Homo sapiens: one gene and its partners. The protein of the gene in region 3 purifies or fractionates together with the protein of the main gene of each other region. This does not show direct contact. Each region holds a gene or a part of one and is shown on either strand. Other genes may lie near its edges.

The links.
Region 1: the proteins of KCNJ12 (region 3) and DMD purify together in Homo sapiens (affinity purification with mass spectrometry, with the first as the bait; one study listed by BioGRID). This does not show direct contact.
Region 2: the proteins of KCNJ12 (region 3) and DTNA purify together in Homo sapiens (affinity purification with mass spectrometry, with the first as the bait; one study listed by BioGRID). This does not show direct contact.

The regions. Positions count from the first base shown.
Region 1 is NC_000023.11:32,344,014-32,347,669, reverse strand, and holds part of DMD (dystrophin), read left to right. Parts: intron 1-1,589; coding exon 1,590-1,727; intron 1,728-3,656. UniProt on the Homo sapiens protein: Anchors the extracellular matrix to the cytoskeleton via F-actin. Ligand for dystroglycan.
Region 2 is NC_000018.10:34,814,724-34,818,379, forward strand, and holds part of DTNA (dystrobrevin alpha), read left to right. Parts: intron 1-1,185; coding exon 1,186-1,291; intron 1,292-3,238; exon of another isoform or gene 3,239-3,440; coding exon 3,441-3,607; exon of another isoform or gene 3,608-3,656. UniProt on the Homo sapiens protein: May be involved in the formation and stability of synapses as well as being involved in the clustering of nicotinic acetylcholine receptors.
Region 3 is NC_000017.11:21,414,299-21,417,461, forward strand, and holds part of KCNJ12 (ATP-sensitive inward rectifier potassium channel 12), read left to right. Parts: intron 1-988; 5' UTR 989-1,044; coding exon 1,045-2,346; 3' UTR 2,347-3,163. UniProt on the Homo sapiens protein: Inward rectifying potassium channel that probably participates in controlling the resting membrane potential in electrically excitable cells. Probably participates in establishing action potential waveform and excitability of neuronal and muscle tissues.

The DNA of each region.
Region 1 (3,656 bases), on a different chromosome or scaffold from region 3:
CAATTACCAGTGCTAGAGCCTTCTCAGACAATGCTTGAAAGTGACATCAGAAGACAATATATAAATTTTAGGTAATAAGTGTGTGAAGCAATAGGAGAACTATTCCCACCAATCTTAGTTCCCACTTCCTGGAGCTGCCTCAATCAATACTCCCCATGTATGGGGTTTGGTGGCCTTGCCAACTCAGCTTGTGGAAAGACGGAAGAGGCTTTCCAAGTTGCTGAGTTACAGCAATCTCTACTTCAGGTCAAAGAAGAAACTAGAGGGCACCAAGATGAAAAAAAGTACTGATTACCTCTTGGGCTGACCCCAACTCTGCCCTAGAGCCCTCAACTGGTATAGGGAAAGAAGTGAAGTGGGTTTTTTAATTTTTTGTTGTTTTTGTCCTCAGCCCTAGAAAATGCTACAGACTTTTACAACACCTTTTAAAATAAGTAAAGTCTTTTACAGACTATAAGTATATGATGTGTCTATATTATGATAAGTATATAATGTGTCTATATTATGCCGTATGTTTCTTTAGATTATTGACCAGTCTCTGACAAAAATAATCCCTTTCCCCCATACAAAATGAATCAGTCCTCAGTTGCGTGTTGAAGTTTATGCATTATAGATTTAAATATATAACATCTAATTCCTTGAATTGTAATACACACATACAAATACTTGTGACTTTTGAAATTTATTATTTGTTTTCCTTATGTCATCAGTGTACCTTGAGTACCATTACAATGTGAGACTACTTGATACAAAGTTTTCACATTCTGAGTTGAAAGAAAGAAAACTAAAGGTGAAAAATCACATGGTCATATATGCGACTATATTAGACCAGCATTTATTCAAAACATTTTATTTCTAAGTAAAGAAAATTAAGATATTGTTCTTGCAGCCTAAAGGAACAAAATACCCATTGAAAATGTTTAAAGCCATTTTCCAGTCCATATTTTAGTATTATTTGATCGTATTTAAATTAACATGCATATATGACATATTTTAGAAATTATTTGATGGTAACTTAGCACATGATTTTTATTAATATCCTGATATTTCTCCTATTAATATTGAGCATTTAGGTTTCAGAAATGAAGCAGGAGTTATTAGATAGGAATTAGTGTACATTTAAATCAAAATATTTTCATGTAGTTGTGTGTTAATATTTTCAGATTTGCTGTTATCTCAGTCACAAATACACATCTGTATTCCTTTATGGATCAGTTAACATTATAAATGATAACTTTAGCTCATTTCTCTAATGTTTTAATTTCTAGAACTACACTAAAAAAGCCAAAAGAATACTTTCACAGTAATTCATGACTTGTCTGACATGATGAAGTACCACACTCCCCCATCTTTCTACAGGTGCCCCTAAAAATGTGTTCTTTACAACTAGATGGGAGGAAACTTATTTTGAAACCTCAAGTACCAAATGTAAAAGAAAGGCTATGAGCACAGTATCTTATAATAGCATTCCATGAAAGTTTTAAATTGGATTTTTGTGTGTGTTTAAATAACATGTCTTATTATCTCTGTTAACAATGTACAGCTTTTTAAAAACCAAAATGAAGACTGTACTTGTTGTTTTTGATCAGAATGAAGACAATGAGGGTACTGTAAAAGAATTGTTGCAAAGAGGAGACAACTTACAACAAAGAATCACAGATGAGAGAAAGCGAGAGGAAATAAAGATAAAACAGCAGCTGTTACAGACAAAACATAATGCTCTCAAGGTATTAGAGCTAAAATTATAATATACCTTGCCTGTGGTTTTTTTTTAATATATAGGGTAAAATATAATGTGCATTAATAAAATCTGCTTCAGACTTAGTCATCAGAAACTCACTTTTTCTGTTCAATGTGTATGCTTTATTTAACATTTTTGAGTGGTATTTGATTTTGAACGATGTGTTGCTTAAAAGTTATGGCTTTTTAAAGACATATTTTTCTAAGTAGTAATTGAAAGATGGGAATGCATTCATAGTACTTATACATTTAATTTTCTAATGTGCTTTATTTTTATCAGCTACTTTATATTGAAAAAAACCTGCCTAACTGCCAGAATAACCGATCTACATGTATCCATTATTCCTGCTTTCTTTACTTAATTGATTTTGCTTGCATTAGGTCCAATTTTTTGGTAACCTGATACTTGTTTAATAAGCCCTAGATTCTTTTATTTATTTTTAAAACTTTATTATGCCTTTAAGAAAGTCACTCTTTGCAACTATCTACAAAGTCAAATTTCATTTATGTAGGAATCCTAAAAAATAATCTTAGTGCCCTTGAATAAGAACTGCTACTTTCATATTAAGCAGTGTAGTGTATGGCTTCAAGTCCCCAGGTGACTCATCTGGTTTGTGCAGGAAGAGCAGGATAAACTTAATTTTTCTATAATAATATCTAGGAAGTTCTTGAGACTAGACATGTGGAAAGTTTTGTGAAACTTTTTTTTTGTATATGCTTTGCAATAATCACTATTTGCATGCATGGCTGATTTTCTAATACTTTTAATTGCTGAGCTTTTCCTTGTAAATCACTCTTTTGAGCTATGTAGTTATGAAGGTGGATCCACCTAGCAGGTAGATGGAGTCTGCTTTCTACATGCAAATAAGAGAATAAAACCTTTCCCCCTATAGTCAACCAAATAAACACTGCTGAGAATGTAATTACACAATATTGTGCCTGCAAGGAATCCACAAGGAAAGTCTAATTGGCCAGCAGGTGTTCTGAAGGTAACTGCTGATAAATATAGTAAACAGAAAAGGCCTCTTCCTCGAGGGAGTGCAAAAGCACACCATAATGTGTCTAGAAAATCGGAACGCTATGTAACTCACACCCTTCCAACTGTGAGCAAGCTTTCAGAAGTATCTACACTGGTCGTATGATGGTGTGTGTCCTACTGAATAGCAGTGTTTAATGGTCATCTGGCATTCCTCTAAAGAAATCTACATGACATCTCTAAATATTTTACATATTATACATCACTTTGTGCTTAGGAAATGAAAGATGTTTCAGATTGATGACCACCAAGCCCTTTCTCCTGGCAAAGATGTGAGTTATGTCACAAATAAGGCATGGCTCAACTCTAATTCACGTGGCTGTATCTTGCTACCTTTGAAAAAAGCAGCGTTCGATCTGACTCCTCAGAAGGTTTGAAAATTCAACATAAAACATAAAGTACAGCAAGGTTTAAATTCCCAATTTTAAACAAACTAGATAATGAAATGTAGTTCATTCTTGCAAATACAGGCTATAAGTGATTAATCAAAATCGTCAACACTACTCGCCAAACCAATCTATACCAACATATTCAATAACTTTTTAAACCTGTCAAATAGTTCCAATTCTGGTCCTTATGAAATATTTTAGAGAAGGTCAAAATTTTCCAATGGAATGAAATTTTTAGAAATTCCCTGATATTTATTATTTTTTCGCTCGAATTAAACCTGTGAATAAAACCCTAATTGCTACTTTCTGTAGAAATGAAAGCTGCATGCAGAGCTTATGTTCCCATGAATTATAAAATGGCATTTTGAGTAATTCTATTAATCACAGAAGATATTGAGTGTGCTTGTAAAGAGCATGATGACTGATTTCCTCCCATTGTTGATTTATTAAATTAGTCTTATCACATTGATTTGAAAGCATGCACTTGCTGT
Region 2 (3,656 bases), on a different chromosome or scaffold from region 3:
TGTGTTCAAGAATTATATGTGATGTTGACATGTTCAAAATTCCTTTTGAAATATCCTATAGACTGTTCTGTTATATGATTTATATATATCCTTAATGATAAGCAACTTATACATGTTGAAATCATAATAGCATTGTTGGAAACTTCCAGGAGTGCTTTTTAGCAAGTATGACAAATAGTCAAAATGAATAAGATCATTTCAAATATGAAAAGAGGTAACACAAAAATAATAAGACCAGTTTATTTTTGTACTTAATGAATTGGCTATTAACAGCTACTCAAGAGTCTGAGGTAGGTAGGAGGAGGTAGGAAGACAGCTTGAGACCAGGAGTTAGAGTCCAGCCTGGGCAACATAATGAGACCCCATCTTTCAAGCAAATAAATAAAATATTTTAAAAAATAAATAAATAAAATTATCCCATCCCCTTTGATATTCTAGTTCAAAATTTCAAGTAGTGATTTTTGCATATAAATATGTATTTTTTTATTTATACCATTACAGTACATGTATTAATATAGCTTTCTTACTTTTATCATTTTGAAAGAAACTTATAGATACAATGCATTCCTTTTGTACATCCAAAAGGACCTGGATAGTGAGAAAGAAGCAGACTGAATTGAGAGGAATTATATATAAAGTAATAAAAGGAGCAAATTTTTAAAAATGTAGATGGTTCTGTCCTAACAGGATTCCCTCCTGCTCTTGTATAACAGAACCATTCACATTAACCACTAAATATTTAGTACTTAAGGAAGTTGAGGAAGCTCAGAAGGGAAGTTGTTCTATAAATTTAGAAGACTGACTGACAGGAAAATTGTAGAGTGAGCTATGATGCGTTCTTGAGTAAAATTCCATGGAGAATTTCCATTCTTTATTTTGCTTCATTATTTTTATACTGTCTTTCATATATACAAATGATGCTCTTGGAATTGTTTTTCTCCTGGTGATACTATTGACTCAGCCTCAGTGGAGAGAATTCAGTCCTATGTCTGCTTAGGTATAAAAAGCAAACGATGTTTTCAGTTCTAAACTAGTTTAATAACACATTTGGCAAGTTCTGTTTCTTCAGATATTAGACATTTATTGAGTGCTCTTTTGTTTCAGTCTCAAATGATATGATATTTACATAGCAGGTAAATTGAGATGATTCTCTGTCCTAAATTTATGGGGGGTTTTTTTATGCAGAAAAAAGTCACGTTAAATGGTTTCTTGGACACGCTTATGTCAGATCCTCCCCCGCAGTGTCTGGTCTGGTTGCCTCTTCTGCATCGACTAGCAAATGTGGAAAATGGTGAGTAGTTACTAAGGAGCAAAGGTGATTTTTTAAATTATTGAAATTAGGCCATTAGTTCTACAGTTAGTAAGCCCAGGCTGTTGTTTTAGGGAAGCCTATTTAGTGGCTCTTAGTTTTGTTTAGGGTAGAACTAACCCATCTCCCTGTTCGGGAAGGCCTTAAAGGACCACTGAAAAATTAGGACTGTCAGTTCCAAAAATAAATCTCATGGTCTTCTTCTCAATTACAAGTCAGGTGTGGTTAAAAGACTTGGCACGATAGAAGGCGAACTTCAACAAGGAGTGTGACATTATTTTGTATTTGTTTTAGATCCGAATTTCTCATATTTGCATACACGGTACTGATTATTTCTTCCCAGGCACTCAGCCAGAAATAGGTGGGAGAAATGAGAAAAAAAAATAGATGATAGCACCCTGTTAATCTTTAGTCATATGTTCCAGATTGTGAGCTTTCAATAGTTGTACTTACGTTAAAGATAAGAGTAAAATAACTTTCGTATCATGTCTTTTTTTAAAGCAAGTATTTCTAGGATAAAAGGAACTACTGTTGGCATATCCAGATTTAAATATGAAATACCATTTGGGGCAAAATTTACAGAAAATTAAACATGGAGCAGTTCAGTGCCTCCATCTAATCTTTAGGTGTTCCTACTTATTGTTCAATGTAACTCTGAAATTTCTCCAGACTTGACGAGGAAATAATTTAGTCTCTATCTCTTACTGAGATTTAACTTAAGTCTCTATATATTACTCAACTTCTGTGTATTTCTTTAATATACATTGCAGCTAAAGTTAGCTTAATTTTAAATTATCATTCAGAATTTTTAGCATCTGCCCTTATTTATCTGTTAGTTAGAAGTTATGAATTTATCCTGTTTTTCTCATGGAGAAAATTTAAAGAATGAATTTATTTTATTTTTTTGCAATCACTAACAATCATAGTTTTTTTATGTTTATCCATATGCAGAAGCGAAGAGCAATCAAGGTCCATGTTATTATGCAAAATGAGTTCACGTTACTGTTTACAGTTCTAGAACTAGTCATTTTCCAATCATAAAGCTATAATTTCTTTCGTTCTCTCTCAGCATTTCCTGCTGCAGGAGATCAGTTTCTTAGGCACCATCCCAGAACAGTTGTCCCTAGATTGAAGTCCCACTCTAGTCTTTCTCAAGAGCCGGGAAGAAAGGTTATGACACTTGTTTAGAAGACAATGCGTCCAGAGCTAGTTATGTCTTTGTTTTTACACTTTGCTTTTTATCTTCATTTATTATTATTTTCATTGTTTTTCCTGACTGGTTAGGCCGGAGAATAGCTTTACCAAAGGCAAGAATTGTTATTGTTGTTTTAGTATCTAGCTCATAGCATGTAGACAATTACTTGGATTTGATCACTTAAATCTAATATTTTACTTTGCTTCAAATCTAGTATTTTGCTTTGCCTGCTTTATAATTCAAATTTCCTACCAAAGAAAGTTAACCGTCTCTTGAGGCATTTGAATTATTTAGAACTGTTTTCAGATAATTTGCACATCTTTTTTAGGGCCCTATACACCTGCCTCAGGAAAGAAAAAAAAATCTGTTTGTCAGATGTAGGCAACACCACTCGTTAAGTAAGCCATTAGTCACTCTATTTTTTAAAAAATAACTTAATTATCTCATCCACACCAGTTTTCCATTCTCTGCCCATCTTCCTTTCTTTTTTCTTCCTCTCATTCTCCGTGTCTCTGATATTCGCTCTCTTCCCACTGGACAATCAGCATTCACCCCTTGTGCTTCTGAGTCTTCCAGTGAGCTGTGCTGGTCTCCTGGAGACAGAGAGCAGTTTGGGGTAAAGGCAAGTCTGTTTGGCTAATTTAAATTCTTGTAATGTGAGAGATGGGAATAGAAAGAGCAAATGGCATTACAGAGATTTTTGTTGTTAAAAGGACACCTCTTCTCCATCCCATTTCATTTCATTTCCCCACAGGCATGATTGAAAAGGGTTGTAAGATTCCAGGAATGAACTAAATGTTTCTCTGAGCCCAAATCAACTATCATCTGAAATCGTGGTGCAGAGAAGAAAGGTGCAATTCCTGTAAGGCTGTATTTTTCCTTCTTCTGGTTCATACTTTTGTTTTCTTGGTTTTTCTTCACTTACTTCCCCCTTAGTCTTCCATCCGGTTGAGTGTTCCTACTGCCACAGTGAGAGTATGATGGGATTTCGCTACCGATGCCAACAGTGTCACAATTACCAGCTCTGTCAGGACTGCTTCTGGAGGGGACATGCCGGTGGTTCTCATAGCAACCAGCACCAAATGAAAGAGTACACGTCATGGGTAAGGCAAGGTCCAGGCAATACTTGGAGTTGGATGTGTGAGTGTTGCC
Region 3 (3,163 bases):
ACCCCGTCTCTACTTAAAATACAAAAGTTAGCTGGATGTGGTGGCGGGCACCTATAATCCCAGCTGCTCAGGAAGCTGAGGCAGGAGAATCGCTTGAACCCAGGAGGCGGAGATGGCAGTGAGCTGAAATCGCACCATTGCATTCCAGCCTAGGTGACGAGAGGAAGATTCTGTCTAAAAAAGAAAAAAAGAAAGAAAAGAAAAAAAGAAAATGTGCTACCCTTAGGGAGTGGTGGTCTCAGGGTGGGGTTGATGGTTGAGTGCCCCTGGCTACGTTATTGTTATTGCTGCCGCCATTGTGCCCTTAGAAGGGGCAGTGCTGTGGATATAGCAGGGATGGGACATGGGTCTTCCTGGGGCACAAGGAGGCCTCTGGTGCCAAGGTGGCGAGGCAGTGGCAGGATGTCTTGCGGGAGGGTGTCCAGGGTGGGTTTGAGGGACAGCCTGGGGCCAGGGGCTGTGGCCGGAAGGGGAGTCCGCTGGAGGAGGCTGGGAGGTGAGGTCCGAGGGGTCAGGAGCTTCCCTGTGCAGGTCCTGCATGTCCTGGGGGGCCTCTGGCATTGAGCAGGGGAGGGATAGGCACCGACTCAGCTTCCACAGGCCCTCTGTGGCTGCCATGGAGACTGGGGGGCCATGGGCAGAGGCAGAGAGGCTGGCAAGTTGTGCCCCGAACTGGCTGGGCAGGCACTGTTAGATTCAGGCCTTGAGGGTGGGAGAAGGGGTCGGATCCTAAATAGACTCTTCAGAGCCCTCAGTGTGGGAGTGAGGTGTGGAGCTGAGGTTTTTGGCTGGAGCTGCTGGGGGCCCGAAGGGGGTGGCCATTCGCACTGGGAAGGCGGAGTGGGGAGCTGGCTTGGGCAAGACCAGAGCACGATCGTGGGTCAATCAGGGTGGAAGCGTCCTCCAGTCACGTCTGGGGGCCCTGGGATGGGGGTAGAGGAGCCCGGAGCCACCAGCCCAGCCAGACATGCTGTCGTCTCTGTTGCAGGAGCCGCCCTGCCTGGAGCTAGCCTGGGGGCGAGCCAGGGTCCCCCAACCCCCGGGATGACCGCGGCCAGCCGGGCCAACCCCTACAGCATCGTGTCATCGGAGGAGGACGGGCTGCACCTGGTCACCATGTCGGGCGCCAACGGCTTCGGCAACGGCAAGGTGCACACGCGGCGCAGGTGCCGCAACCGCTTCGTCAAGAAGAATGGCCAGTGCAACATTGAGTTCGCCAACATGGACGAGAAGTCACAGCGCTACCTGGCTGACATGTTCACCACCTGTGTGGACATCCGCTGGCGGTACATGCTGCTCATCTTCTCGCTGGCCTTCCTTGCCTCCTGGCTGCTGTTCGGCATCATCTTCTGGGTCATCGCGGTGGCACACGGTGACCTGGAGCCGGCTGAGGGCCGGGGCCGCACACCCTGTGTGATGCAGGTGCACGGCTTCATGGCGGCCTTCCTCTTCTCCATCGAGACGCAGACCACCATCGGCTACGGGCTGCGCTGTGTGACGGAGGAGTGCCCGGTGGCCGTCTTCATGGTGGTGGCCCAGTCCATCGTGGGCTGCATCATCGACTCCTTCATGATTGGTGCCATCATGGCCAAGATGGCAAGGCCCAAGAAGCGGGCACAGACGCTGCTGTTCAGCCACAACGCCGTGGTGGCCCTGCGTGACGGCAAGCTCTGCCTCATGTGGCGTGTGGGTAACCTGCGCAAGAGCCACATTGTGGAGGCCCATGTGCGCGCGCAGCTCATCAAGCCGCGGGTCACCGAGGAGGGCGAGTACATCCCGCTGGACCAGATCGACATCGATGTGGGCTTCGACAAGGGCCTGGACCGCATCTTTCTGGTGTCGCCCATCACCATCTTGCATGAGATTGACGAGGCCAGCCCGCTCTTCGGCATCAGCCGGCAGGACCTGGAGACGGACGACTTTGAGATCGTGGTCATCCTGGAAGGCATGGTGGAGGCCACAGCCATGACCACCCAGGCCCGCAGCTCCTACCTGGCCAATGAGATCCTGTGGGGTCACCGCTTTGAGCCCGTGCTCTTCGAGGAGAAGAACCAGTACAAGATTGACTACTCGCACTTCCACAAGACCTATGAGGTGCCCTCTACGCCCCGCTGCAGTGCGAAGGATCTGGTAGAGAACAAGTTCCTGCTGCCCAGCGCCAACTCCTTCTGCTACGAGAACGAGCTGGCCTTCCTGAGCCGTGACGAGGAGGATGAGGCGGACGGAGACCAGGACGGCCGAAGCCGGGACGGCCTCAGCCCCCAGGCCAGGCATGACTTTGACAGACTCCAGGCTGGCGGCGGGGTCCTGGAGCAGCGGCCCTACAGACGGGAGTCAGAGATCTGAGCCAACCTTGGCCGACATGCAGCATCCACCCCCGGCTGGGGAGAGGCCCCGCGGTCGCTCAGGGGCCCCGGGTTTGAGCAGAACGGGCCCAGTGCCCTGGGTTGCAGACTCAGTAGCGTTTTAGTCGTTTTATGTTTCTTTGCAACGGCCTCAGAAGTTTGGCCGGAGAGGGGGCAGCCAGAGCGGCAGCCCCCGGCCTCAGAGGCTATCACAGGCTCAGGGCAAAGAAGTGGCCTCCTGGGGGGCCAGGCCACGAGGGCCAGGGCTTCTGCCTGAAGATGGAGCTGCAGCCTGCGGGGAAGCAGCTCAGCTCGATGGTGGGCCCAGCCTCTGCTGTCCAAGGCTGGCTAGCTGCGGTGCTCCTTGCTGGTTTTTAACTTGGGGAGAAACACCGGGTTTCAGCTTTCTTGACCTTAGCTTGGGTGAGACTGTTTACAAAAAAAAAAAATTACCATGCAATTGAAAAAATTTTTTTTTAATTCACAGGGGGCAAAAAGAACAATTAGAATTCCATGGGTCTGCCAGGATGCAGCAGCTGGCTGAAGGCTCCAGAGGGTTCCCCGAGGTGGGACTGGCCTCTCCCCGTGTGTGTGGGCACCACAGTCCCTGGGCAAGCAGGGTGCTCTGGGACCGCACTTCATCGAGCTCACGAGCCAGCTAGGCTCTGTTTGTGATAGAAAAATCAAGACCATGTTAATGATCGTAATAAAAGCTTTCTACTGTCGTTGGGGTGGTGGGTGGGGCTGGGAAGAAACTGGTTTGAGCTTTTAGAGTTTGCCTTTGTACCTTAGAGATGTGTCTCAGGGCCAGGCATGGG